Homo sapiens: one gene and its partners. The protein of the gene in region 2 purifies or fractionates together with the protein of the main gene of each other region. This does not show direct contact. Each region holds a gene or a part of one and is shown on either strand. Other genes may lie near its edges.

Evidence for each region.
Region 1: the proteins of STRIP2 (region 2) and CTTNBP2NL purify together in Homo sapiens (affinity purification with mass spectrometry; 2 studies listed by BioGRID and IntAct, with this or other methods). This does not show direct contact.
Region 3: the proteins of STRIP2 (region 2) and SIKE1 purify together in Homo sapiens (affinity purification with mass spectrometry; 3 studies listed by BioGRID and IntAct, with this or other methods). This does not show direct contact.
Region 4: the proteins of STRIP2 (region 2) and PPP2CB purify together in Homo sapiens (affinity purification with mass spectrometry; 5 studies listed by BioGRID and IntAct, with this or other methods). This does not show direct contact.

The regions. Positions count from the first base shown.
Region 1 is NC_000001.11:112,391,724-112,399,213, reverse strand, and holds the start of CTTNBP2NL (CTTNBP2 N-terminal-like protein), read right to left. Parts: upstream 3,001-7,490; 5' UTR 2,942-3,000; exon of another isoform or gene 2,629-2,941; intron 1-2,628. UniProt on the Homo sapiens protein: Regulates lamellipodial actin dynamics in a CTTN-dependent manner. Associates with core striatin-interacting phosphatase and kinase (STRIPAK) complex to form CTTNBP2NL-STRIPAK complexes.
Region 2 is NC_000007.14:129,437,430-129,444,455, reverse strand, and holds part of STRIP2 (striatin-interacting protein 2), read right to left. Parts: intron 4,435-7,026; coding exon 4,365-4,434; intron 433-4,364; coding exon 358-432; intron 1-357. UniProt on the Homo sapiens protein: Plays a role in the regulation of cell morphology and cytoskeletal organization. Required in the control of cell shape. Calmodulin-binding scaffolding protein which is the center of the striatin-interacting phosphatase and kinase (STRIPAK) complexes.
Region 3 is NC_000001.11:114,777,664-114,784,848, forward strand, and holds the start of SIKE1 (suppressor of IKBKE 1), read right to left. Parts: upstream 3,023-7,185; 5' UTR 2,945-3,022; coding exon 2,786-2,944; coding exon of another isoform or gene 2,774-2,785; exon of another isoform or gene 2,724-2,773; intron 2,553-2,723; coding exon 2,447-2,552; intron 1,622-2,446; coding exon 1,479-1,621; intron 1-1,478.
Region 4 is NC_000008.11:30,788,814-30,795,839, forward strand, and holds part of PPP2CB (serine/threonine-protein phosphatase 2A catalytic subunit beta isoform), read right to left. Parts: intron 5,469-7,026; coding exon 5,379-5,468; intron 5,266-5,378; coding exon 5,104-5,265; intron 2,503-5,103; coding exon 2,384-2,502; intron 1-2,383.

The DNA of each region.
Region 1 (7,490 bases), on a different chromosome or scaffold from region 2:
CTGAGTAGCTAGGATTACAGGTGCATGCCACCACATCCAGCTAATTTTTTACATTTTTGATAAAGACGGGGTTTTATCATGTTGGCCAGGCTGGTCTCGAACTCCTGACCTCGTGATCCACCCGCCTCAGCTTCCCAAAGTGCTGGGTTTACAGATGTGAGCCACCAAGCCTGGCCTCAGAAACTATTCTTGAACAAAAATCAGCAATCAGTCCCTAGTGATCTCTCCTAAATTCACTTCATTCCTATCAGGTCAGATATTTAGAACAATAAAATCCTAAAATGATTAGCACTCATTACGTTCTTAAGTCTGGTTCAAATTTCATGACAGTAAAATAGTATTTTCTAACTAGCAGATTACATATATATTTTTTTAACTTTTTTTTTTTTTTTTTTTGTTAAGAGACAGGGTCTCTTTCTGCTGCCCAGGCTGGAGAGTGCAGTGGCATGATCATAGCTCACTGTAACCTCAAACACCTGGGCTCAAGCAAGCCTCCTGCCTCAGCCTCCCAAGTAGCAAGGATTACAGGGATGAGCCACCACACCCTGCCTCACAGATATTTCTTTATAAGAAATTCAAAATTTTAGTCACTTAAGACACTGGAATTTCATAAGACAGAAGATGGGGAAAATCAAGTTAAATGAAGACAACAAGTAGGCCGTTTATACTAACAAATTGTGCCAAATCTAATCAGTACATTGCCTTTCAGTCTACCCTAAGGTGACAGCCTCAAACTAAGTTAAACAAACACTCATGAAGTCATACTATATACTAGGAACTGTGAAAGATATAAAGATGAAAAACAAAAAATACTACTATCTGCCCTCAAAGAATTTATAATTCAAGGAGAGAGATCAGACATCTATCCTCTGCATACTATGCTTTTCTTCACCTAGCATGACCAAACAGGTGTTGAAAAGGTTAAAGGAAAGATTTTCAAGACCCAAAAGTGTAACAAACAGATCTTGCTTACTGTGCTAAATAATAAAAGAATATTATTTGCTTTTTCCTATTAAACCTCGGCAATCACAACTTTGGTTTGCTTAGTCTCTTACCTTAGTTTATTTTCTGTTCTCTGTTGATATAATACAACTTATCTTTTTGGGATTTTCTGTTCTGCTTTTAGTTTTTTCTGCTGTTATTGCTGGGAGCTCACGTCTTACCCTTCTATTGCAGCACACATTGCGTTTGCTAGAGACACCCTCCAGTTTCTTCTTTGTACTTTCTTACTGGAGATTTGGAAACAATCACTGAGAAGACCTGTGAGCACCGAGTGGCTCTGAAAACTTCAAACCTAACTATTCAAAAGTAATTATCTTTAGGAAGTCTACCTTCAGAAAGTCTAATCAAGAAGGTAAAAGACAACAGTCATTACAATCACCCTCCGTGATTCCAACTCCTTGCATTTTATTGCCATCAGCTTTGGCTATAGCTGACAGAGGGGAGGTAGACTTGAGATTGGAAGCAAAAGAAACTATGCTAAAAACATGGTAAATTTTAATATATAAAAGCGCTAGCAATAGATGATTACTGGGGATTCAACGACATTAACATGAGGTCAAAATCAACACTTTGCACCTGCTGAAATGAAGACCACTTGACAAAACCTTTAGGAGCACACTAGAAGAGGCACTTTTTGGTAAACATGAATAGCTAGAATACCTTGCCTTTATTTACTCTTATCTCTGAGATTTAAAAATTGTTCTTACTTTTCATCCTCTAAATTTTGATAGATGATCGTAAAACCAATCAAAATATACATGAATGTTTCCTGGGGGCGGGGAGGACACTATAAAAAAGGGGTTAGAGAGTTACCAAAGGACATAGGACTAGATTAATCATAAACCTAGATGACTGACCCTGAATTTTCTTCAAACACTTCCTGTCTTTTGTTTCAACCTGCAGTATACCTTCAAGGTTAACTGCAGTCTCCCTGAGCAATGGACCAGCCCACCCTAGACTGGGATATACTCATTCCTAATCCACTGCTACTTATTTACTTATGTATACTGTTTCATTTGAAAACATGGTGTTATTCATTGACTGTCAAGCAACATATACTGCATTCCTGCCCACACAAAGCCAGCTCTGCAGATATCCAACACACCCACCTCACTGTGAAATATAAGATGGCTTTTCATCAAGTTCTCAGGGAGGAAATAGGGTGGAAAAGGAAAAATGAAACGCAATTCAAACCTAAGAAACCCTTAGAGGCTGGGTGCTCCCAGAAGGAACAGAAAGTAGAAGGAAGGTACAAAGGGTGAAGGAGAGGAGGTCCTAGTTCTCCCTCTTTCACAGTCCAAAACAGTCCCAAAACAGGAGAGCTCTCGACTCCTCACAAGAGGCCAGAGGATGCGAGGGGCTGCGGGAGGAAGACTGAGCATCAGAGAATGGGGGATGGGAAGAACTTAAGTGGGAGAAGCCGCTTCCTCCGTAAAGCTGGCTGTCTAGGTCGGTCTTTGATTTTTGCTTCGCCCCATCCCTCCTTTTTGGGAAACACCAATTTTATCTTACGGAGGAAAGCAGCTCCAGTCCCACCCTGGCGAGCAGGGACAGGTGTAGGGAGGGATGTTTGGCCTTCCGGGGGTACGAAATGGGGTTGGGGGCGGCAGCCTAGAGAATCGGTACCTGTGAGTCCTCTCCGCCAAGGCTGAGGTGCGGGGTGGGAGGTGCCTTTGAATGAGGGGTGTCAGAGGGAAGCCCCTTCTGAGGAGCTGGGAATCGACGAGGGACAAAAAGTAGCTGTGAGGACCCTCGGAGGATGAGGAGCCGCCTCCTCGGGGAATACCGGGAGGTGGAGGAGACGGCCCCGCCCCCTCAGGGGATGGGCCCAGAGGCCGTTGAGACGGCGGCGGGAGGCTACCGGTGCCCCTATCCTTGCTTTGCTCTTGAGAACCCGGCCTCCCAGCCATCACCAAGCCCCAGGGATAGTTGCTCCTACCTTTCCACGACGCTCCGGGCTCCGCTCCCCTCCGCCTCCACTCCCCATCCACAGCGGCTGAGGCTCCGCCCCCTCAGCCGCCCGGCGGGGGCATTGGCATTCACCAGCGCCAATCGCCTCCTTGCTTCTCCAGCCTCGGCCCCAATCCGCGCCGGCTGGAGGCGGGGCTTCTCCAAAGTCATTCAGGCTCCTCCCGGGGCCCCAAGATCCCTTTTGTTTGGGAAGAGCAAGGCCGGGATTGAGCTCGCGTCACTTCCGGGAGGAAGCGCCCTCCTGGGTCCTGGGCTTCAGGGTGGGCTCGCGCCCCTCCCGGCTCGGGGTCTGCAACTTTCCACCTCTGCGTGAAAAGTCTGGGCAGGACCGTGACTAGTGCTTCGTGCTTTTACCTGACTGTACGCGGAGTTTAGGAATGGAGGGCTCTGGTGGCCTAATCGATTGGGATTTTATCCAGAATGTTAATAAATGAAGTGGGCTTTGGTGTCTGCATTAGAATGAATTCGTTGTTGAAAAACCTGGCTTCCTTGCTCCCTTTTTTTTTTTCTTTTTTCTGGAAGCGCCTGTGGGCGTGGTGCTGGAAGCAAGGGTGCAAAGATGAAACACCTGGAGATCACCCTTCTCTCAACCACATTTTGTACAGAAGAGGATACTAACTTTGGGGGACATAAACCCAGCCGACCTGCCTTCCAGGCGGAAGTCAAATAATTGCAAATTTGTGTGGCAGGTTTTTCCACCCTATGCTTGCCAGCTGAGGCGACTTTTTTCTTTCCTTGGCCTCATTATATTGTGGGGAATGGTGTTTGCAGTGAAGTTGAAACAATGGAGAGTACAGAGGATGCAAGGAATGTCTGCCTTGTGAACACAGGAATGCAGATCTTGGTGGCAGCAAGTCTTAGGCAGGACCAAATAACTCAGAGAGGGGAGTGGATGTATAACTAGTTGTATCCCTACCTAAGGTCAAAGTTTCTGAATTCCTTTTCCACAGAATGGCTGTCAGCTCACAGATTGATGCAGCTGGTTACATTTACAATAACCACATTATTTAAAATACAATATAATAAATATTTGAGACGAATATTCATAATGCATAAATAATGTAGTACACTTAATACATTATCCCTAAACTTAGCAATTATAATTCGCAAGACAGCATTAGGGACCTAGTGCTTGCCTAGGCAGACAGTCCCCAAGGCAGATGCAGCCTGCCTCATGCAGTTTACAGTCTGACTGAGGGATGTGATCAGTTTGTGCGATTATAGTCTGAAAGAAGTAAACAAGTATTTATCATGTTATCACTGTGCCATGTACTTTCATTTAATGGTATTTGATGTCATTTTCAGTGCTGTATGAGAAATCTATCCTACAGTGTAGGATAGACATCATTGTGTCCAATTTACAGATGAGAAGATAGAGATTCAGAGAAGTCAAATAAAGTCATAGAGCTAGTAAATGGTAAAGAATTTCCAGTAAGGATGTATGACTCCATACTTATGCCATATTCTGCTCACTTCACACTGGCTCTCACATGCTGGACTAAGAATGGGCGTGGATGATGGTAAAGCAAACATTAGAGCCAGAAGGACAGCTCTATGCCTCCCCCTGTTGATTTTAGGCTTGGGAGGGTCATCTCTGTATATGAAGGATAGCAAGACTATGAGTGAAGGTGCTCGATAGCAGTGTAAGTGAATCTGGAGTAATGATGCAGGGTATACTGAACTTCAGAAAGGCATTATGCCTTGTGTTCTGAAAACTGACAATCTGAAAGCTAAAATGAGGGGCCAGGCACAGAGTAGGTACTCAATAAATATTGACTTGAAACAAAATGTCTGAAATGATTACAAATACAGAGTGTTAGGTGCTGGAGCAGGCAAAGGAACTTGAAAAATCCCATTTCCTCCTCCTCCCTTTCGCTCTGCCTATGTGTATGCAATGAGGAAGTGCCTCATCGCCTGACAATGAAGCAGATGTGGGAGAACAAGCTATTTTCTGCTGGCTTCTGAGTCACTCTAAGAGTTGTTCTAGTGAATCAGCTCCTCCCTTGTTTTTCTTTTCTTTTTTTTTTTTTTTTTTATCGAGATGGAGTCTCGCTCTGTCTCCCAGACTGGAGTGCAATGGCGCAATCTCTCACTACAACCTCCGCCTTCTGGGTTCAAGCGATTCTCCTGCCTCAGCTTTCCGAGTAGCTGGGATTATAGGCGCCTGTCACTGTGCCCAGCTAATTTTTATATTTTTAGTAGAGATGGGGTTTTGCCATGTTGGCCAGGCTGGTCTCAAACTCCTGACCTCAGGTGATCCACCTGCTGGCCTCCCAAAGTGGCTGGGATGACAGGCGTAAACCACCATGCCCGGCAGGTCCTCCTTTCTTTCCCTCATTCCCTTTGTAGCTGTTAACCCACCACCACCCATTCTTTTCCCTGGCTGACTGGGTGGGAGCAGTGCTCTGTGACCTACTTCCTTTAGAGCAATGGGCAACTCCCCTGATTTCCTGGCTTCCCTTCTGCGTATTCCTAAATGAGTGTAGAAGGACTCAGCAAAAATGAGAACATCCCTGCCTTGTAGGATTCAGAGTCTTGAGGGTGTTCAGATTGCTTTCCTTTTAATTTTTCACCCCTAGAAGTAGGGAACAGGCAGGGCTTGTGAACCTCGTGTATCTTTCAGATTGTAGCAGTGAGAGAGTTATGGAGGTTTGTGATTCTTCAATACATAAACCTTGTAAATAAATTTAGAGTCTGGTGCATAGGTGTACGCAGAGGTAAAAAATGGTTCATAACAATATCTTAGATTTGTATAACAAAATATAACATTTTAATGTCTATCATTTTATCAACTGGACAGTAAAATATTTATTAAATGCCTATTGTGTCAGGCAACAACTTAAAGTGCTTAAAAATTATAGATTGTGTCAATTTTTTTCCAAATAAGTAAATTTCCATAAATGTTTATTGCTGGTTTGGGGAGGCAGCAATGGAGTAAAAGAGGTCTAGGCTAGAGGTTAAAAAATCTGGAGTCTAGTTCTTATTCTGTCATCAACTATAGTAGTTTCTATCTGGGCAGCTTAAAACAACAGAAATGTGTTCTGTCTCAGTTCTTGAGGCTAGAAGTACAAAATCAGGGTGTTGGACGAGTGCAGTGGCTCACTCCTGTAATCCTAGCACTTTGGGAGGCTGAGGTGGGTGGATCACCTGAGGTCAGGAGTTCTAGACCAGCCTGGCCAACATGGTGAAACCCCGTCTCTACTAACAATACAAAAATTAGCTGGGCATGGTGGCGGGTGCCTGTAATCCCAGCTACTTGGAAGACTGAGGCAGGAGAATCGCTTGAACCCAGGAGATGGAGGTTGCAGTGAGCCGAGATCGCGCCACTGCACTCCACCCTGGGCAACAAAGAGCGAAACTCTGTCTCAAAAAAACAAACAAACAAAAAAAAATCAGGGTGTTGACAAGGTTGGCTCCTTCTGGGGGCTCTGAGAGATGCTCCATCCCATGCCTCTCTCCCCTGGCTTCTGGTGGTTCCCAGTGATCATTGGCGTGTAACTACATCATCCCAATACCTGCCTCCGTCTTCACATGGCCTTCTCTCTATGTCTCAGCGTCTCTGTATGTCCTCTCCTCTTCTTATAAAGGCCCCACTCATGTTGTACTTAGAGCCTACTCTATTCCACCATGACCTCATCTGAACTCATGACATCTGCAAAGACCCTATTTCTAAATAAATTCACAGTCTGAGATGGGTGCACATGAATTTTGGGGGGACATCATTCGACCCGATACACAAACCTACTTGGCAAAGTAACCTTCTCACTTAACTCCATTTAAGTTCATTGATAAAAGGCATGAAAGTAGTGGAATAATTCCTAAAGATCATTTCAGCCTATGATTTAATATAATGATATATGCTAGATACATTAATCAAGCTATCAAATTATGTGCTAAGCATTATGCAATTTTTTATATGACATCTCATTTCACCCTTAAAAGAATTCCACGAGATAGATATTAACAGTCCCCTTTTGCAGGTGAGGAAATTGAGGCACAAAGAGGTCCAAAGTCATGGAATTCATAAGTGATGAACACAGAATATTTACTTAGATCTGATTCCAAAGTGCACTCTCAAAATTACTATGCTCTATCATCTCTCCATCATGCTAAGTGGGTTAGGAAGATGGGGAATGCAACAAATATTTTCAATTTTGATTTATAGAATATTTGGAGCTGAGTAGCAATTTCCTGGAATTATGTGTAAAGTTTGGACTTATTTTATTTATTTATTTATTTATTTATTTATTGAGACAGGGTCTCACTCTGTTGCCCAGACTGGAGTGCAGCGGCCCAATCTCTGCTCACCGCAACCTCTGCCTCCCAGGCTCAAGCTATTCTCCGGTCTCAGCCTCCCAAGTAGCTGGGATTACAGGCGCGCACCACTACTGCCGGCTAATTTTTTATATTTTCAGTAGAGGCAGGGTTTCACTATGTTGGCCAGGCTGGTCTCGAAATCCTGACCTCAAATGACCCACTTGCCTCGGCCTCCCAAAGTGTTGGGATTACAGGAGCCA
Region 2 (7,026 bases):
CATGAAAAGGAGAGATGGGCCTAGCCTTTCAGCCTACATCTTTCTCCTGTGCTGGATAGTTCCTGCCCTCGAATATCGGACTCCAAGTTCTTCAGTTTTGGGACTCAGACTGGCTCTCCTTGCTCCTCAGCTTGCAGACAGCCTATTATGGGACCTTGTGATTGTGTAAGTTAATACTTAATAAACTCCCCTTTATATATATCTATCTATTTATCATATTAGTTCTATCCCTCTAAGAGAACCCTAACTAATACAGAGGGGATGAAGGATCGCACTTTGTTTTAGTCTTTTACTAGATCAGGCTGGTATATCATAAAAGGAAAAAGCAGGTCTCTATGAGTAAAGATCTGGAATTACCTTGAGTCTTGAAATCTTCTTCAAAGCACCTCCTGTTATTGGTGAATTCCAGGTTCTCAGTGTAACTATACAATTCTGTGGCAGGAAAGACAGAACAGTCACATTCGGGAGATCCTTAAAGAAGAGGCCCAAAGTAGAGAGGGTGGCATGAAAGAGCTGAAGCTTCCAACACATTCCTGTGTCCAATGAATCCAAAGCTAGCTTCCTCCTTTTCAGAGCAACGTTAAAAATAGCCACTTGTGTCCCTGGGAGATTAAACCATCAAACCTGTCCTCTTCCTGCCAGCTGGCTGCTGCAGCAGAGAAGGCAGCCTTCAACATTTGGTGAGGGCCAAGAGGAGGACTGCAGCACAGAGAGCTTAATCTCATCACTCCTGTTTCTCAGGGCTGCAACTCCTGCTTTGTCAACCCAACCAGGAACTATCCCATCTCTAAGAGAAGAGGAGGGCAACACAACTCCTGAAACTTAGAGGAAAGATCCTTGTGCTGGATCAGGAAACCATGGCAAGGGCTGAAAAGTAAGTGCTAGATGGTTCTTCAGGGTTGGAACCAGTTCATTCTCTCCCTGCTAAGTTTCCTCAAAGGGTATAGAAGTTTAGATTCCTGCCCACAGCCACAAAGCAGAGGCTGCAAAAAAAACTCTAGAGAACAGCTATGGTTGTCAAAGGGCTGCTGTGCCCAGGAAAATCTAACTTTGCTAACAGCAGCCTCTCAATACAAAATGCAAAAAGCTTATGAGAAATAAAAATGCCAGCCACGTGTGATGGCTCAGACCTATAGGATTGTAATCCCAGCACTTTGAGAGGCTGAGGCAGGAGAATTGCTTGAGGCCAGGAGTTTGAGTCTAGCCTGGGCAACATAGCATGACCCTATCTCTACAAAAAATTTAAACATTAGCCAGGTGTAGTGGCACATGACTGTAGTCCTAGCTACTTAGGAGGCTGAGGTGGAGGATCGTTTGAGCTTAGGAGTTTGAGGCTTTAGTGAGCTATGATCATGTCACTGCACTCCAGCCTGGGGTAACAGAATAAGACTCTGTCTCTTAAAAAAAAAAAAAAGAAAGAAAGAAGAAAAGAAATAAAAATGCCCTTTCCTACTCTCTCTATCTCTCTCCAGAACATTGTATATGTACCCTCATCTTACAGAAGATGAAGAACTGAAATACAGAAGTCAACAGATGATAGAACAGATTTCCTTTAAATCTCTGCTCCCTACCTGAGACCCTTCCTGGAAATTTAACCAGGTCACAGGTAATTCACAAAGCAAGAGAAATTCACTTATGTTCCAGCCAGCTGTCTAATGGTTGAGAAACACCTTGTCTGGGAGTCAGGGCTTTTGAGTCTTAAGTTCCAGAATCTAGGAGTGACCAGAAGCAAATCCCATCACTGAATCTTAAATTCTTCAGTCATTAGTGGAGAGGTGAATATATATATTTTTAAGATTAAAGCACCAAAAACCAAATCAGAAAAGTGGGCAAGGCTCTTAGGTACTGAACTTTAGTCTTGGTCTTTTTATTTTTAAATTTTAGATTATGAATTTTTATATACAGGTAAGAACAGAATAGTACATTTAAGACACCTGTGTATTATCTTCTACCCAGGTCAAACAAATGTTAGCATTTGTTATATTTGCTTCAGACTGCTCCCCAGTCTATCTTATTCCCTTCTCCAGAGGCAACTGCTATAATGAAATTGGTGTGTATCCTTCACAAGCCTATTTTTCTACTTTTGCTATATGCACATATGCCTGTAAACATATGATATTGCTCTGTTTAAAAACTTTTTTATCCAAGCAGTATCCTATTGTATAAATTCCTTTGTTACTGATCCTTTGTCCCAATTTTATCTTTAGCATTTATTATTATTATTATTATTTGAGATGGAGTCTCACTTTGTCACCCAGGCTGGAGTGCAGTGGCGTGATCTTGGCTCACTGCAACCTCTGCCTCCCAGGTTCAGGCAATTCTCCTGTCTCAGCCTCCCCAGTAGCTGGGACTACAGGTGCATGCCACGATGCCCAGCTAATTTTTGTATTTTTACTAGAGACAAGGTTTCACCATATTGGTCAGGCTGGTCTCGAACTCCTGACAGGTGATCTACCCACTTCGGCCTCCCAAAGTGCTGGGATTACAAGATGTGAGCTACCGTACCTGGCCAAGCATTTATTGATACTGAAACATGTTGAGGCCAGGTGTGGTGGCTCACACCTGTAGTCCCAGCACTTTGGAGGGCCAAGGCAGGAGGATCACTTGAGCCCAGGAGTTCAGGACCAGCCTTGGCAACATGGTGAGACTCTGTTTCTACAAAAGATAAACAAAATTAGCTGGACATGGTGGCACAAAATTAGCTGGACATGGTGGCACAAAATTAGCTGGGCATGGTAGGGCATGCCTATGACCATAGGCATAGCTACTTGAGAGGCTGGGGTGGGAGGATCACTTGAGCCCAGGAGCTCAAGGCTGTAGTGAGCTGAGAGTGTGCCACTCAAGCGTAAGCAACAGAGCCAGACTCTGTCTCAAAAATAAAAAAATAAAAAATAAATATATTGATTTAGATCAATTATTATTTTAATGGCTATTCAATAGCCTACTGCACTAATATGCTATAGTTTATCCATTTCCCTACTGATGAGCATTGTAGGTTGTTTCCAACTTTTTACACTGATAAACAAGGCTGCAATAAACATCTTTGTACATTTTCTTGTGCCCAAGTGTAATTTTCTTTAGAGTGGATATCTAGGAGTAGACTTGTTGGGTCACAATATGTGCACATCTTCAACTTTGCAAGATATAAGCAAAATGCTTTTCAATTTTATACTCTGCTCCCCCCATGTCTAGCAGTGCATAAAAGTACTAATTTCTCTGCACCCTCACCAACCCCAGGCTTTTAAGTTTTGCACTCTGATGATTGTGAAATAATATTTTATTATTTTAATTTGCTTTTCCCCATATACTAATAAAGTTCAATATCTTCTCATATATTTATTGACCATTTGGCTTTTTCTTCTATAAATTCCCATTTATATTCTTTGCCCATTTCTTTGTTGGGTTGCTCATCTCTCTCCTCTCTTTAAAATATATATATATTTATATCATATTCCTATTATGAATTCTAATCCTTTGTTGGTTATTAAACTTAGCTCTCTATTTCTCTGTCACTCATCACAAAATTTATTCTCTGTGCTCATGCACAAGAACGTCTTTAAAATTGTTTGTCTCTTTTCTCTGAAAAAGCATGCCTCAAAGTATCACTTCCATGTGACAGAATATTTAAATTTCACACATCTCCACCCAAAGCTTGTTTATTAATAACTGGCATTCATAGCACATGTAACATGGAGGCCCTTAATGTGAGGAGATCACATTTACCCTAAGCTAAAAATCCAGACAGAGACAAGCAGGCCAGCACTGAAAGAAGAATGGAATTACTTAACCCCAGCTCATAAACATCCAAGCAGAACTCTACTATGATGGATGCAGGTGACATGTCCAGCCTTGCTCAGCTGGCCAGTTGACTATAGTTTTTCCTCGGACTTTGCTGAGATTTTAATAAGGGGCAGTTGCGAGAGGAAGAAGGAAAAGATGGAGGTAGAGGAGACAAAGGAAAAAGAGATGGCATGGGATAGAAAGAGGGCAGCAGAAAGAAGTAGGCAGGCAAAGATATGGGTGACAGGAAGAGAAAAAGAGAAGGAATATGGAGAAGATGGAGAGAAAACTGATTTGAGAGTGCACCAAATCAGTTATTTTCAAAGAGAATAAAGAAGAGTGAGCAGGAAAGAGTGATAGAATGACAGAATGAAGAATACCATAGCCAAGGAGAATCACAGAAGGAAATGTGAAGACAAACAAAGAGATATTTACCACTTGGATGGAGAGGAAAAGGAATGTGGAGAACAGCCTTTGTTCAACAGCCACTTGGTGAGAACAGACAAGCTTCCAGGGAGATCACAGGCCCCTTCCCTCTCCTCCTGGCCATTCTTCCACTAGCTACTGACCCATCTACCTCATACCTGACAACTCGGCTGCATGCCCATCTGCATCTCCATACTCAAACTCCAGAGTGGGACAGTCCACAGAGCCCTGTAACAGAGAAATTTTGTTGGTAACTGGGATAACTTGGAAAAAGGGGTTGCCAAGGGAAGACTGTACCCTTATTTATCTTCTTCCCCTCATGGAGGCCAAGGTTAGATCAGGGAGACAGTTAGGAGAGTCCTATTTGGGTCTTTCATCTCAGAGGTACCCTACGCCAAGCCAAAACTTGAGTCTCAGTGTGGGGAGGGGCTGAGGATTCCTATACAAAATCGGAAAGTCTGAATAAAGGGCCAGGATCTCAAACATATATGAAAGCTATGGTCTGTGTCCATATCTAATCTACATGAACACAGACCAGAGGAGCATCTAGCTGATTTATATAAAATTGAGACAGACAGAAACAAAGAGAACTGGATTCTAGCTTCAGTTCTGTCATCAACCCACTGTATGATATAGATCAAGTCTCATGCTGTGGATCATAGTTCCTTATTTTTAAAGAGGTTCTTTAGCTCTAATATTCTGCAACTTTAGGATTGTCAAATGATGCAACATCTCCACTCCAAGTTGTAGTAAAGATTACATTTCCCATGACGTTGTATGTATAAATTTATAATCCTAGTAAATATGTTTTAATATAATCCCATCTTCTAACTTAAACATTTTGGGATATTTCCTTCCTGTATATGTTCATACATATGAATTTTTAAAATTTTCAATCTCAGCTCTGTCACATACTATTTGATCTTGGACAAGTTAACCTCTCTGTGCCTCAGCGTGACATAAAAAATATACTGTTCTTTGCCCCTGGTTCCTGGTACAGAGCTCCTGAAACTCTTAGAAGTTCCTGAGTGATAGGAGTGTCAGTTATTCATAATGAGTCACTGTCAGCTTTACCAGAATTTATGCTCATGAGGTGACTTATGTTAGGAAAGACGGAGCACATGATTAGAGGGTTTAACTTTCAGCACCACCCCCACATCCAGGGAGGGGAGGGGTACTACAGATTAAGTTCAGTCATGTGGCCAATAGTTTAATTATGTCTAGGTAATGAAACACCATAGGAAAACCCAGAAACAACTAGGTTCAGGCAGCTTTTGGGTTGGGGAACAAACAGATGTGCTAGGAGAGTGCTGCCCAGGGAAGATAAGGAAACTCTGCATCACCCCAAACCCATACTTCGTCCTTCGCATCTCTTCCATTTAGCTGTTTCTGAGTCATATCCTTTATAATAAAATTATAATTCTAAGTACATGCTTTCCTGAATCCTGTGAGTTATTCTAGCAAATTATGGAACCTGAAAGGAAGATCATGATAACCGCTTAATTTGTAGTTGGCCAGGCTGAAGTGTAGATAGCTTGGGGATCCCACCTATGGCTGGTGTCTAACGTAGGGCCTTGTAGGACTGAGCCCTTAACTTGGGGGTCTGTGCTAATTCTAGGTAGTTAGTGTCAGAATCGAATTGAACTGTAGGACATCCAGTTGGTGTCAGCGAATTGTTGGAAAATGACCTGCTCAGTTTTCCCATCTGTAAAATGAGGATAATAACAGGACTTACTTCATAGGGTTATTTTAAGGACTAAATGAGTTAATATAGGAAAGGCACACGGCCTAGCACTTCGTAGCACTATGTGAGTGGTCACTCTATGATTTTAATATTATACTATAAAGGCATTCTTCTCACATTATTATGACTATTAGTTTAAATGGTTGTATAAATGGATGTACATTTATTTGTTTACTTAACTAGTTCCTTATTGAATATTTAAATGGTTTTTAATTTTCCTTTATTATATGCAACAAACTGTAATAGACTTACACTTTTTTCTATATTTAGGATATTTCCTAAGCATAGATTTTTATAAAGAAAATTAATGAATCAAATCTTATGAACATTTTAAAGTCTCTTTGTATATAAGTTGCTCCCCCAAAACATTATGCCAATTTATACTGTCAACAAAGCAAATTGGCCGGGCGCAGTGGCTCACGCCTGTAATCCCAACACTTTGGGAGGCCGAGGTGGGCGGATTACGAGGTCAGGAGATCGAGACCATCCTGGCTAACACGGTGAAACCCCGTCTCCACTAAAAATACAAAAAATTAGCCGAGCATGGTGGCGGACGCCTGTAGTCCCAGCTACTCGGGAGGCTGAGGCAGGAGAATGGCGTGAACCCGGGAGGCAGAGCTTGCAGTGAGCCGAGTTTGCGCCACTGCACTCCAGCCTGGGTGACAGAGTGAGACTCTGTCAAAAAAAAAAAAAACAAAAAAAAACAAGGCGAATCATGTTTTAATCCACTATAGCAAAGATTTCCAAACTTTTGGATTAAAAGGAACAGTAGGGAAAAAGAAAAAGGTGGAGAGTGGCAAATGACATAGGGTTGTTGCTGTTTTATTCTGATAGGTAAGGACTTTAAAAACTTTAAAAAATTCAAAAAATGAAAGACAGAATCTCAGAATAAAGAACAGCCATTAAAAATTGTTTTTCAAACTTTTTGGAAAAATGATACCTTTTACATTACGTCCCAGCACACACACACACACACACAAACTGGAACAAAAGTTTAACAAAATATTTACCTTTACTGCATGTGATGCAGTGATATTTTCTATTATTCTCTTTCTTTTCTTTTTTTTTTTAAGACA
Region 3 (7,185 bases), on a different chromosome or scaffold from region 2:
CTAAGGTTTCATCCAATGCCAACTCTGGTAAGGCCTTAGTCATTTTTGTGGGTGAAATCTGATTCGATGCAAGCAATGTTATTTTCATTTCTGAAAATTATCTATGTCCAGTGCATCAATCCCCCAGTAGGTCCACACTCCAATAAAAAGATTTGAAATGGAAAAAAAAAATCAATTGTAGTTTAACTACCCATTGGATGTTGGATACTATCTCTAAGTGGCTGTTTAACTTAAATTTGAATACTTTTACTGGCAGGAAGCTTACTACATTCCAAGGTGCTTTATTCCATCTTTGGACATATCACTTAGAAAGTTTATCTATCTGAGTAAACTCTGTCTCTTTCAAGGTTCAAGTTTTTTCCTCCATACGAGAAGAAAATCTATTTTTCTCTTCCAGATGAAAGCCATTCAAATATTTAAAATATCTGTTTCCTAAAACTTTTAAGTCAGTAAAATGCATTCAATGGAATTTAAGATGAAGCTTATATTTCACTACATCTCACAGAAGTAGTAGGCTCCAACCCTATACATCTAGAATTAAATGATACAGTACACAAGAATGTACAATGACAACCATGAAGCACCTATAAACATAAGAACAATTACTGAGTCTCCCAAATTAGCAAAGAACAGAAACTATGCCATGTTTGTTTTTTTAAAAAACCATACTTCTCTCCCCTAACAACATAGTATGATACTATGTGGTTCAGTTTATAAAAGGTTTACTGACTGCCTGCTGTATGTCAGGTACTATGTTAGGAATAAAATGTGAATTCATGCGCCTTACAAGCAAGGAGCTTAAGTTAAATGTATAAGTAATAACCAACCAAGTGTTTACCAGGCAGCTTCAACACTAACTGGCATTATGTTTGGTGGGAGCGCTAAGAATTAATGAACATTTTCAAAAGAGATCTTGGTGAGGGAGGGGGAACCTTAGTCCCACTCAAATAAAAGGATCTGAGCAGCCCCTATCCTCCTTCTTTCTATTCATATCTTTACAAAGCCATGGCAAAATAAACAACAAATGTGATAAACATGAAAGGAAAATGAGCTTACTTTTCTTCAAAAACAAGCACACATGGCCAGGCGCAGTGGTTCATGCCTATAATCCCAGCACTTTGGAAGGCTAACGTGGGTGGATCGCTTGAGCCCAGGAGTTTCAGACCAGCCTGGGCAACATGGCGAAATGTCATCTCTACCAAAAAACAAACAAACAAACAAACAAACAAACAACCCCACAAAAATTAACAGGGCGTGGTGGTGTGCACCTGTAGTCCCAGCTGCTCCGGAGGCAGAGGTGAGACGATGGCTTGAGCCCAGGAGGCAGAGGTTGCAGTGAGCCGAGATCGTGCCATTACACCACGGCCTGGTCGACAAGAGCCAGACCCTATCTCACAAAGCAAAAAAACAAGCACACAATCTAAAACAATCTCAAGATTTCAATTTGGTTCATTTCGAATTTATTCAAAGTTTCTTACTGCAGAGTGAGACTGGTGAGCTTTCAGGACTGGTTCAGCATCCACCGCTTTTTTAGCAACCATTAACTGTAACATCTGTTTCCGATATTTGCTCATGATAAGTTCCAAAGCATCCTGGTGTTCCTCCAAGGAAATCCATAGCTCTGTCAAAAAATAAAAGAACTTGGCAGTGATGTCTGAGAGACAGTTCCCAAATCCAAAGTCTTAACAGTTGGAATTTTGTAACACTATATAGATAATATGAATCTAAAGTTGTAAATCAATGTTTAAGTCCGCAAAACTGAACAGTTAAAGTCTATGTGAAAGGTAACTTTCTAGGCAGAGAAGCAAAGTCTTGCAGAAACAACAATGGATGTATCATCAGAAGACATGTGTTTGAGTTCAGTTCTGTAACTTGCTTGGTTAATACTCATAAGTAAATCATTTAGCTTCTTCTGAGCCTATTTCTTAACTGCATTGTGGTAGATAAAAATGAAGATATGAGAATACAGTAGAATGATATATGTGAAACCCCTCTGGTAAACAACTATTAATACCACAATCATTAATAATGTACTAATCAAGCCTAAGAATATATACCCTTAGAATAAAATTCTGCTGCTTCACCTTGCACAAACAAGAACATAAACAAAACCTTAAATCTTACCTTCAGTGTTTATATTAATACTTAAACATTAAATTTTAAGTCCATGAGGCTATGAACTCTTTTGTTACACATCTGAGGATGCTTAAAAATAAACCATGCAATAATACCAACTCTACACAGCACCTCTTTGGTAAGCTGCTGCAATATTAGTCAGATGACCTTGAAAAGGGTAATCTAACAAACTTTATTGTTACTGGGCCAGATCAGGAGGACTCTCCTACTAAAAGTACTGACCTGGAAATATATGTACACTTTTGTAAATGTTTAGGGCAATTTTGCAATAACTTTAAACTATTACCAGATATGAAAAGGCCTGACTAACCTCTGTTTTCCTGTTGCAAGTCTCTAATCTGTGTGTTCTCTTGGGACAGCAGAATGTGAGGTTTGTATTTGGACATGTCCTTCATATCGGATGCATCCTCTTGATACTGGACAAATAGAGACAGACTAAGCATGCCTTAAAGAGAACAGCGGCAGATGCAACTGAAGAGGCAGAAGTTAGGGCTCCAGGGCAGGATTCTCAGCCCCGACCCAGGAAAATGGTCTCACCGCCGCCCTCTGAGACCGGGAATAAATTCCAGGCCGAGTTCCCACTTTACCTCGCTCTCCACCCTTCAGTGCCCAGAATCCGAGAGCACTGGACTCCTACCCTCTGCCTGACCTGGTCCGGAAGCGCTGTCCCCGCCTCCCGCATAGCTGCTACCCGCCGGTGCAGCGCCGCCGACTGATCCACCAGCGACTCGGCGGCCGCATCGTGCTCCCGTAGCCTCTCCAGCAGCGTCTTGGCGTCTGTCAGGATCTTCTCGATGGTGCAGCTCATAGCAGCAGCACCACCCCAGCCCCTGCCGGGCTCAGCTACGCGACTCGCTCAGATCTTCTGGGAGTCTGTCTCAGCATTACAGGCGTCATTTCCGGGCACGTTTACAAGGTGTCTTGGTAGGCGCAATGGGCGCCTGCGCAGTGGCAGCCTATTTTGCGGGTTGACCCGCTTTAACCTGCGGCTTCCTTGCAGTCCTTCCTTGCGCGGAGCCCCAGACCTACACTTGCCACGCCGTTGGTTTCCAGTTACCACAGCCTGGTGGTCAGGCTATGATTAGCTGGGCAGTGGGAAGGTCTCCTTTCCCTACTGGTTTTCATTGATGTGGGTTGTTCTTCAGTCACAGTTAGTTTCTTTTTATTTTCATTATTTTTTTCTTTTTTGAGACGGAATCTTGCTCTTGTCCAGGCTGGAGTGCAGTGGCGCGATCTTGGCTCATTGCAACCTCTGCCTCCAGGGTTCAAGCGATTCTCCTGCCTCAGCCTCTCGAGTAGCTGGGATTACAGGCATGCGCCACCACGCCGGCTGATTTTTCTATTTTTAGTAGAAACGGGGTTTCACATGTTGGCCAGGCCGGTTTCGAACTCCTGACCTCAAGTGATCCGCCCGCCTCGGCCTCCCAAAGTGCTGGGATTACAGGTGTGAGCCCCCGCGCCTGGCCTACTTTCATTTAATTTTTTTTAAATTGTGGCAAAATACACATAAAATTTAATATCTCAGCCATTTATAAGTGTACAGTTCAGTTGTACATTCATATTGTTATACAGCCACCATCAGCATCCATCTCTAGAACTCTTTCATCTTGCAGTACTGAAGTTCTGTACTCATTAAACAATAATTCCTCATTCTTCCTTATCCCCAGCTCCTGGCAGCCACCATTCTACTTTGTGTCTCTACAAATCTGACTATTCTGGGTACCTGACATGAGTGAAATCATACAGCATTTGTATTTATATAACTGCCTTATTTCACTTAGTGTAATGTCCACGAGTTTCATCCATATAGTAGCATATGTTAGAATTTCCTTCCTTTTTAAGGCTGAATAATATATATATACCACGTTTTGTTTATCCATTCATCCGTGGATGGACAGTTGGGTTGCTTCCACCTTTTGCTATTGTCAATAATGCTGCTATTGCAACTGGCTCACGTCTGGCTGCTTGCTGCCTAGAGGCCAAAAACATGAGAAGTGACCTGTGGTGAAAGCTTTACTAATCAAATGCTCGCAGATGGGGAATGGCTAGGCTCATGCCTTCAAAACAGCATTCCACTTTTTTTTTTTTTTTGGTCAAGGTATCCCAGAGACAGTATCAGTGTCCAAACTTTAATTTTGTCCCATATCAATGCCAGGGTGGTGTGCTACCTGCCCTGAGTCCATCATGTCCCTCCTGCGGCCAACTGACTTAGAGTCAAAAGAGTTACAGCCAATTAAACGTTCTAGGTCAGATGGGAAGGAGGTGGGCAGGCACTCATTAACCTTAAAACCCCTCTTAAGCAATGTTAAGAGGCAAAAACCAAAAGGCAAGGGTTACAAAATTGACTTATCTATAAATTCTATGCATTGAGCTGCTGTAATCTTGGCTTGTTGCAATTAGCTATACAAAATGCAAGCATTTTGTTTAGCTGTTTTGGCATCTGTGTCATCCTTGATTTGTAGGGTCTGAACTAATTTTAGCTCTCAATACTGGCCCTTACAACATTACGTTATAGTCTCTAGGCATGGCGGGATTGAAGAGTTTCAACTTTTGTAGGTAAAACAAAACAGAAAGAATTAACAACATTTCAAACACAAAGGTCATAAACCCTGCCTAGTTTTGAGAATAACAGGAAAAGAAGTTCATAGGTAGCTAAACACTTAAATTATTTAGTATCAAGGCACAGAATAAATTATATTAATTCAGATAGAGGCAGAATTGTTAAATGAATCTTAATATTTTTGAACACAAGACTGTCCCTGTGTCTCATGAAAGCAGTTTACTTTGTCGCCTTTGCCTGAGTCTAACGATGAGGCTTTGGTTAATTGCAGTTTAGTGTCAGATACTGGCAGGAGTTGATGCCTTCTTTGGATGAGATATGTGTAAGTCCCTATAACTTAAAAGCACAAGGATTAGTTAATATCACCTGATAAGGACCTTTTCAAGGAGCTGGAGGTGTGATACCGGAGTCTATGACCTGACTGGAAGCTGTAAAAATATTTTACAACCTTGCAGTGATTAATTTTTATAGCTTCGATAAACCCCAGCAATAAGTCAGAGACTTAATTTACGATTTTGATTTTGAGGACATTGGTCAAAGATTTTAAAAGCCTCAAAACATTTGATCAAAACAAGATAATATTCATTGTAAAAATAATAGTTACTCATTTAACCAAACTGATAATTAAAGACTTTAAAGGCAATTGAGAAGGTTACCAGGACATAAAAACCTGAACCCTTTTAAATCTCAGTTTTTCTAGGCAATTAAAAACCCATTAAAGAGAGCATGGGAATTATTTGATAAAACATTAAAATCTTGTTTCTTAAGCAAGTTACTACACAGGCAAAAAACCCCTTCTGCTGTGTGACTGCTTCTCCTTATGGGAAGACCATGTAGGTAACCTGAAAGTCATACTTGAAAAAAGTGCTTGAATTTAATCAGACACAAGAAGAGTGTATTCATGCTTATGAGTATAGCAAGGGAATACATCTCTCTGAGCAATTGCGTGAGAAGTTTCCTGATTACAACGAAAATCACATATCAAGAAAAGCCGGGAGTACAGAATCAAGTTATATTGGAGGAAAACACTGCTTTTATAGACTTCTAAGATAAAACATTTCAGCATCAGGCCCCAACAGTTAGAATCAGAGGAAAAAGAATTAGAGGAGCTGATGGAAAAAGTTGAAGGAGAGTGTCCTTTTCAAAGGGAGGAAAAAACTGAAAACAGCCAGACACAACAAAAGCTGAACTTCTGAGATATGAATCTGAGAAGTTTTAAAAAAAAATAGGTGATAGAATTAAAAAGCAAAATTTCCTTTAATTTCATTAAGAGTAAACCAACACCTTAGGAAAACCTTATTTAAACCTAGGGAATCATTCATTATTTTTATTTTTATTTTACTTTAAGTTCTGGGATACATGTGCAGAACATGTAGGTTTGTTACATAGGTATACATGTGCCATGGTGGTTTGCTGTACCTATCAACCCATCATCTAGGTTTTAAGCCCCACATGCATTAGGTATTTGTCCTAATGCTCTCCCTCCCCCTGCCCCCCACCCCCCAACAGGCCCGGGTGTGAGATGTTCCCCTCCCTTTGTCCATGCGTTCTTATCGTTCAACTCCCACTTATGAGTGAGAACATTTGGTGTTTGGTTTTCTGTTCCTGTGTTAGTTTGCTGAGGGTGATGGTTTCCAGGTTCATCCATGTCCCTGCAAAGGACATGAACTCATTCTTTTTTTTTTTTTTTTCTTTTTGAGACAGAGTTTCACTCTTGTTGTCCAGGCTGGAGTGCAATGGTGCGATCTCGGCACACTGCAACCACTGTCTCCTAGGTTCAAGCGATTCTCCTGCCTCAGCCTCCCAAGTATTTGGGATTACAGGCATGTGCCACCAAGCCTGGCTAATTTTATATTTTTAGTAGAGATGGGGTGTCTCCATGTTAGTCAGGCTTGTCTCAAACTCCCAACCTCAGGTGATCTGCCCGCCTCAGCCTCCCAAAGTCCTAGGATTATAGGCGTGAGCCACTGTGCCCGGCTGAACTCATTCTTTTTTATGGCTCCATAGTATTCCATAGTGTATATATGCCACATTTTCTTTATCCAGTCTATCGTTGATGGGCATTTGGGTTGGTTCCAAATTTTTGCTATTGTAAATAGTGCTGCAATAAACATACGTGTGCATGATTTATAATCCTTTGGAATGATTTATAATCCTTTTGGTATATACCCAGTAATGGGATTGCTGGGTCAGATGGAATTTCTGGTTCTAGATCCTTGAGGAATCGCCATACTGTCTTCCACAATGGTTGAACTAATTTACACTCCCACCAACAGTGTAAAAGCGTTCCTATTTCTTCACATCCTCACCAGCATCTGTTGTTTCCTGAGTTTTTAATGATTGCCATTCTAACTGGCATAAAATGGTATCTGATTGTGGTTTTGATTTGCATTTCTCTAATGACCAGTAATGATGAGGTTTTTTTTATATGTTTGTTGGCCCCATAAATGTCTTCTTTTTTTTTTTTTGAGAGAGAGTCTTGCACTGTC
Region 4 (7,026 bases), on a different chromosome or scaffold from region 2:
GTTTTTTCCTGTGTAGAGGTCACACTTCCTTGTTCTTTCCATGTCTTATAATCTGTGGTTGAAAAATTGGACATTATAGATAACATATTGCAGTAGCTCTGGAATTCATGTCCTTGGGGACTGATCTTGTCTTTTTGGTGGTTTATTATTTTTGTTTAGTGACTTAGCTGAACTAACTGTAAAGTCTACTTCCCCCATAGTGTGCAGCCCCTGTGGCCCTGCTCGGATGTTTTTACTTTTTTTTTTTTTTTTTGAGTTTCACTTTTGTTGCCCAGGCTGGACTGCAATGGCGTGATCGCCGCCGCCTCCCAGGTTCAAGCGATTCTCCTGCCTCAGCCTCCTGAGTAGCTGGGATTACAGGCATGCGCCACCACACCCAACTAATTTTGTATTTTTAATAGAGACTGGGTTTCTCCATGTTGGTCAGGCTGGTCTTGAACTCCCGACCTCAGGTGATCCGCCCACCTCGGCTTCCCAAAGTGCTGGGATTACAGGCATGAGCCACCGTGCCTGACCGTTTTTACTTCTTTTAATCTTTCACAGCCTGGCTACTGAGGGGCTGTCTCTGGGTAGGCATAAGCCACTTACTGATCAAAGATTGTACTTAAGCCCCCTTGGCCAGTTAGATCTTAAAGCTCACCCTAATGGCCACCGGAAATGTTATGTGACTTGCAGATTGCTATCAAAGCTGAAGGAGTTTATATTTTGGCTTCCCATTCAGCCAGGGACTAATAGTTGGATCTTCATACTGCACTCAGTCCAGAGAGGGTATAACCTTGGGCATGCACATATTCTGCCAGACTGTCAGGGATGAGTGTGATTTTATTTTAAAGCCTGACTACCTAGGAGGTGCTCCTGGATCAGAGTAACTGAATGTCGTTCAGTCAATGATGAGAGGTTGTGTTTAAGCCTCACATACTAGTGATGGTTACACCATTTGTTGATCAATCTACTTATCCATTTCCTGGGGCTGCCGTAACAAATTACCGAACTGTATAGCTTATACAACGGGGATTTATCCTCTCACAGTTCTGGAGGCTACAAGTCTGAAAGCAAGATGCTGGGAGGACCACGCTCTCTCTGAAGGCTCTAGGAAAAATCCTTCCTAGCCTCTCCCTAGCTTCTGATGGCTCTGGCAATCCTTAGCTGGTAGATGCATCACTTGAATCTCTGGCTTCACACAGCATTCTCCCCTGTGTGTGTTTCTTTTCCTCTTACTAAAATCCCATTCGAATTGGATTTAGGCCCACCCTAATCCAGTACAATCTCATCTTTAATAATTATATCTGTAAAGATCCTATTTCCAAATAACATCACATTTTGAGGTTCTGGGTGGACATGAATTTTTTTGGGGGGACATTATTCAACTCAGTACAATCTATGTGTGGCTTGAAAATATTATATGAATACCCCACATCCTACTCTTGACTGCTCCTGAGTGGGTATGGCTAGTGCATGTGCACAGCCTTCTTGTCCCCCAGGGCTGACTGTGATCCCAGAAGGGCTCTTCTTGGCTTTTTCCCTGGTGCTATTTGTTGAACAACATGTTGCTCTGCTCTTTTGTATGTTGCTCCTAGTATCATGGGAGCTATTACAGCCCTCTTAATTGGTCTCCACCATGACATCTACTGCTTTCCACAAAGCACTCAGATTTGGAATTCTCCATCACCTAAGTAAGATAAGTCCTCTGAGGCAGAGCTGAGGAACTTCTGTGACCTGCCTTTCCTCCTGAGCAGAACTTCTGTGCCAGTGCAGGCTCAGTGATACCACCTGGTTTATAAGCAGGTGCTGGGGTAACAGCATTGGGAAACCCAGCATTCTCATCTGCCATGCATGCCTGGAGCAGAGCTTCTGCCCCAGGAGCTGGGGCAGGGAAGGGGGCCTCAGCCTGCTTGACTGTGTCTACCAGGAGTAGAGCTTTTGTAACTCCAGACTAGGAGAGGTGAGATATGCTGGCATCTGATCTCTGGGAGTGAACCCACAGCCCCAGCCCTGGGAGCTGATGAAGAGGGGGAATCCCTTAGCCTCCTGACTATACCAACCCAGCGTAGAGCGCCTGTAGTCGTTTCTGTGAGAGGGATCTGGGAGGAGTTGGAGGGGGCAAGTCATAGCTCAAATGCCACAGACTACGGCTATTATTACTGAGATTTAGTAGGTTTTCTTGAATTAACTGTTTCTCCACCTGCTGTATGCCCTTAGGACAATTTCCAAAAGCTTTGAAAAATTATTTTTTAAAAATAATGTTCTCCAGCTAATGGTTATTTTTGCTGGAGAGGGGCTTTGCTATACTCCTCATCCAATTTCAGAAACAGAAATCTTCTATTTTTAACATTTAAAATTTTCCTTCTGAAAGTATATACAATTAAAATTTACAGTTACTCACAAGGAATATTTTAAAGTGTCATCTAATTCCATGATAGCAGCCTGGTTCCCACAACGATAACAGTAATTGGGTGCACTGAAAATGGTAACCACATTCCGATCATGACACCAATTGTATCCCTGCAGGATAAAAACAAATTCATTATTTCATTATAATATTATGATTTTGACACAGACACATTTAAAAAAAACTAAACTCAAAAACTACAGGTACTCTCTGTGGAAATGTAGTCGTCTATATTACTATATAAGGTCTCCATCTTTAATAGTTTGTGTACCTGTAAAGAATACTGTGCAATTCGTGGGCCTAGGAGTCTGTTAAATGCAGCTCGCTAATTGTTGTTTTGCCGTATCTATGCTTGAAATCTTGGCAAGGATGTGTACTGAATTTCTCCCACAATCATAATTAATTTCTCAATTTTCCCTCATGAATTATGCCAATTTTTTCTTTATATATTTTGAAGCTATTACTAGGTAAATACAAATTTAGAATACTTTCTTCCTAGAGAACTGGGCCAGTTTTCATCAATAATCTCTTTATTTCTAATAATACCTTTTATTAGAGCCTATCTCATTCATATTATTAGCTATAGTATTATATATAGTGTGTATACATACATGCTAATTAATGTATGTGTATATACATATGTATATATACGTGTATATATGTATATATGTGTGTGCATATATGTATACATGTGTATATACATGTGTATATACATACACGTATATATGTATGTATACATGTATGTGTGCGCATATATGTATACGTGTGTATATGTGTATATATACGTGTGCATATATGTATACACACATACATGTGTGTATATATGTATACATATATATACATACATTAGTGTATGTATGTGTGTATATACACACACACACACATCCTGTGTTGCCCAGGCTGGAGTGCAGTGGTGCGATCTAGACTCACTGCAACCTCCAACTCCTGGGTTCAAGCAATTCTCCTGCCTCAGCCCCGAGTAGTTGGGACTACAGGTGCGTGCCACCACACCAGGTTAATTTTTTGTATTTTAGTAGAGACAGGATCTCACCATGTTGCCCAGGCTGGTCTCGAACTCCTGAGCTCCAGCAATCCGCTTGCCTCAGCCTCCCAAAGTGCTGGGAATAGAGGCACGAGCCACCACGCCAGCTCATTAGCTATATTTTTGATATTTTGATTAATTACTTGATATACCAATATACCATTTTCCAACTCTTACCTCTAGTTTGTGGTGTCTTTTTCTTTTTCCTCGTTTTTTTGAGACAAGGTCTCACCCTTTTGCCCAGGCTGGAGTGCAGCGGTACGATCATAGCTCACTGCAGCCTCAACCTCCTGGCCTCAAGTGACCCTCTCACCTCAGCCTCCTGAGTAGCTGGGACAATAGACATATGCCACCATGCCCAGCTAACTTTTTGACTTTTTTTTTTTTTTTATATAGAGATGAGGTCTCACTATGTTGCCCAGGCTGGTCTGAAACTCCAAGACTCAAGAGATCCTCCCACCTCGGCCTCCCAAAGTGCTGGGATTATAGGCATGAGCCACTTTGTCCAGCCAATCATTTATGTTTTAGGTACATCCCAAATAACAGCTAAATTTTGATTATTTATCCAATCTAAGAGTCTCTTTCAGGCTAAAATTTTAGTCTCTTTCTTATAATCACTGATATAATTAAATTTATTTTTACTATGTAAATTTGTGTTTTTTTTATCATGCTCCCTTGTTTCTACTGGGCTGGCGAAGTTTTCTCTAAACATCTTGAAGCCACTCCCTACTGGTCTGCAGGGATTATGTTGTTTATGTTCCCTTAGTAGTTGTATAACAGTTAATATTATAGTGGAGAAATCTGGCAGACATCATCTTAACTAAGCAATTAAAGTTGCCACCACCAGCATTGAGACAAGCAGATTTTAGGACCACTTGATACAATGCACGGAGGAGGACACACCATCTTTCTATGTCATGACTGCCAAAAATGCATACATTGAATCCCTAACTGCAAGGAAAACATCAGGCAAACCCCAACTGAGGGATATTTCTGTAAGATAAAATGCTCCTACTCTTCCAAAATGTCAAGAATGTGGAAAACAATGAAAATCGGAGGATTTCCACATCAAAGTAGAATGAATACAACCTAATCTTTGGATTCGACTATGCACATACAGTATGCACAAAAAATTAAATTTTGCTATTAAAGACATTAGTGAGACAATTAGCAAAATTTGAATAAAGTGTTCATATTAAATAACAGTACTATATGAACACAAATTTCCCAACTGTGATAACTATACGGTGGTTATGTGACAGTGTGTCCTTAATTTTACAAAATACACATAGAAAGTTGGTAGTAAAGGAGTATCTGTCTGCAACAGATATTCAAATGGTTCAGAAGAAAGTGTGAGGGGTGAAGAGGAAGAGAGACACAAAATGATAAAGCAAATATAGTAAAATATTTACAGTCAGGAATCTGAATGAAGCATACAGGGAATTATGGGGTACTATTTTTGTAACTTTTTTCTAAGTCTCAATTTCAAAAATGAGTTATAATTCTGCTCTGGTCTACTAGTGCTTTCCCTACTTGCTAAAACCAGCAAGTTTTTCCTCTTTTCACCTAGGTAATAAATGGTGAGGAATGTTTCTTAGTTAAGTCATAATGCCTTATTACAGAAGTATATACTAATCTGAAATAAAGATCATTCTGTCAGGAAAGTACATACCTCCATTACAAGCTGGTGGGCACGAGAAACCAGTGTGAGACCATTGGCATGGTTAAAGGTTTCAGAAATGTCTTGTCCAAATGTGTAGCCAGCACCACGTGGTGAAATACCCCATCCACCACGATCATCTGGATCTGACCATAACAGATCACACATTGGGCCCTGGCCAAGAAAAATAAGTACATGTTACAAATTATTATCAGTCATACTTTATCATCCTCAAAATGTGGTTATATTTTCTTTTCCTTTCTTCTTCTTTTTTAAATTAAGTTTACCTCATGTGGAACTTCCTGTAAACGATCCAGGGCTCTTATATGATCCAGTGTGTCTATGGATGGAGAGAGGCCACCATGGAGGCAGAATATCTATGTATGAATTAACAAAAGAGAATGTATTTGTTTTACTAACTCCAAACAGTTAACAAAGAGTAAATAATGGTTAAAAGTGTCAGTCCAAATAGTGCCAACATTTAAACATATTTTGTCCATCATTTTTTCTTCTTTACCCCTTCTCTGGTCAATGGTATCCCCATCCTTGGGGACCCACCATTAAATTTCTTTTTTTTTTTTTCCCCTCCCTCCCTCCCTTCCTTTTCTCTGGTCAATGGTATCCCCATCCTTGGTACCTACCATTAAATTTCTTTCTTTCTTTTTTTTCTCCCTCCCCACTTCCCTCCTTTCTTTTCTTTCTGTAGAGATGGAGTCTTGCTGTGCTGCTGAGGATGGAGAGCAGTAGCTATTCACAGCCTTGATCACTGCGCAATGCAGCCATGAACTCCTGGGCCCAAGCAATCCTCCTGCCTCAGCCTCCTGGGAAGCTAGGATTACAGGTGCATGCCACTGTACCCAGCTGTCATTACAGCTTCTGTTGGTTATTGCTGATATATACAATTTTTTGTTTCTCTTACAGCAAACACTCTGATTCCTGTTACTGGCTACAATAAATTTTCAGTTCCTTCATATTTTCTAAGTACATAATCAAGTCATTTGCAAAACTATTTTTGTTTTTTCTTCTCAATGTTTATACGTTTTAATTCTTTTTATTGCTTAGTGCATTGGCCAGGACTTCTAAAATAAAATGGAATAATACAAATGTTTTCTGTTTTGTTTTTTGTAAACTACCTAGTTTCAAGTCCATGCTCTAGGTATTCTGAATCAGAGAGAATAACGTAAGTTTTAACAAGCATTTTCTTTCTGATTTTGATTTTTTTTTTTTTTTTTTTTGAGACGGAGTTTCGCTCTTGTTGCCCAGTGCAATGGCGTGATCTCGGCTCACCGCAACCTCCGCCTTCCGGGTTCAAGCAATTCTCCTGCCTGAGCCTCCTGAGTAGCTGGGTTTACAGACATGTGCCACCATGCCTGGCTAATTTTGTATTTTTAGTAGAGACAGGGTTTCTCCATGTTGGCCAGGCTGGTCTTGAACTCCCAACCTCAGGTGATCCGCCCGCCTTGGCCTCCCAAAGTGCTGGGATTACAGGCATGAGCCACCTCACCTGGCCTGATGAGAAGGTTTCTAATGTTTAGCTGATAGTACAACTGGCGTTTCTTTATCCACTTAATATTATTATTTTATAAAATAACTGAGTTTTGAATCATAAATATAGGAATTTTTTTTCCAAATGACTTTGGTCTGATTTTATTTTTCTGTGCGTGCCACGTCTGGTTTGGCATTGAGGTTATACTAGGCATACGGTGTGAGTTTTGAACTCTCCATCTTTTCCCAAGTTCTAGAACACAGAAATTATATGTTCCTTAAAGGTTTGGTAGAATTAGCCTATAAAACTATTTACACCTGGTTGCTATTGGTTGTTTACTTATATTGGACGAATTTCTGCAAGCCAATTTTAATAACTGGTATTTTACTATAGTAAGCTTCATTCAGCTTTTCAAACTTAGTGCACTAAAGCTGCACCTGTTCTTGTGA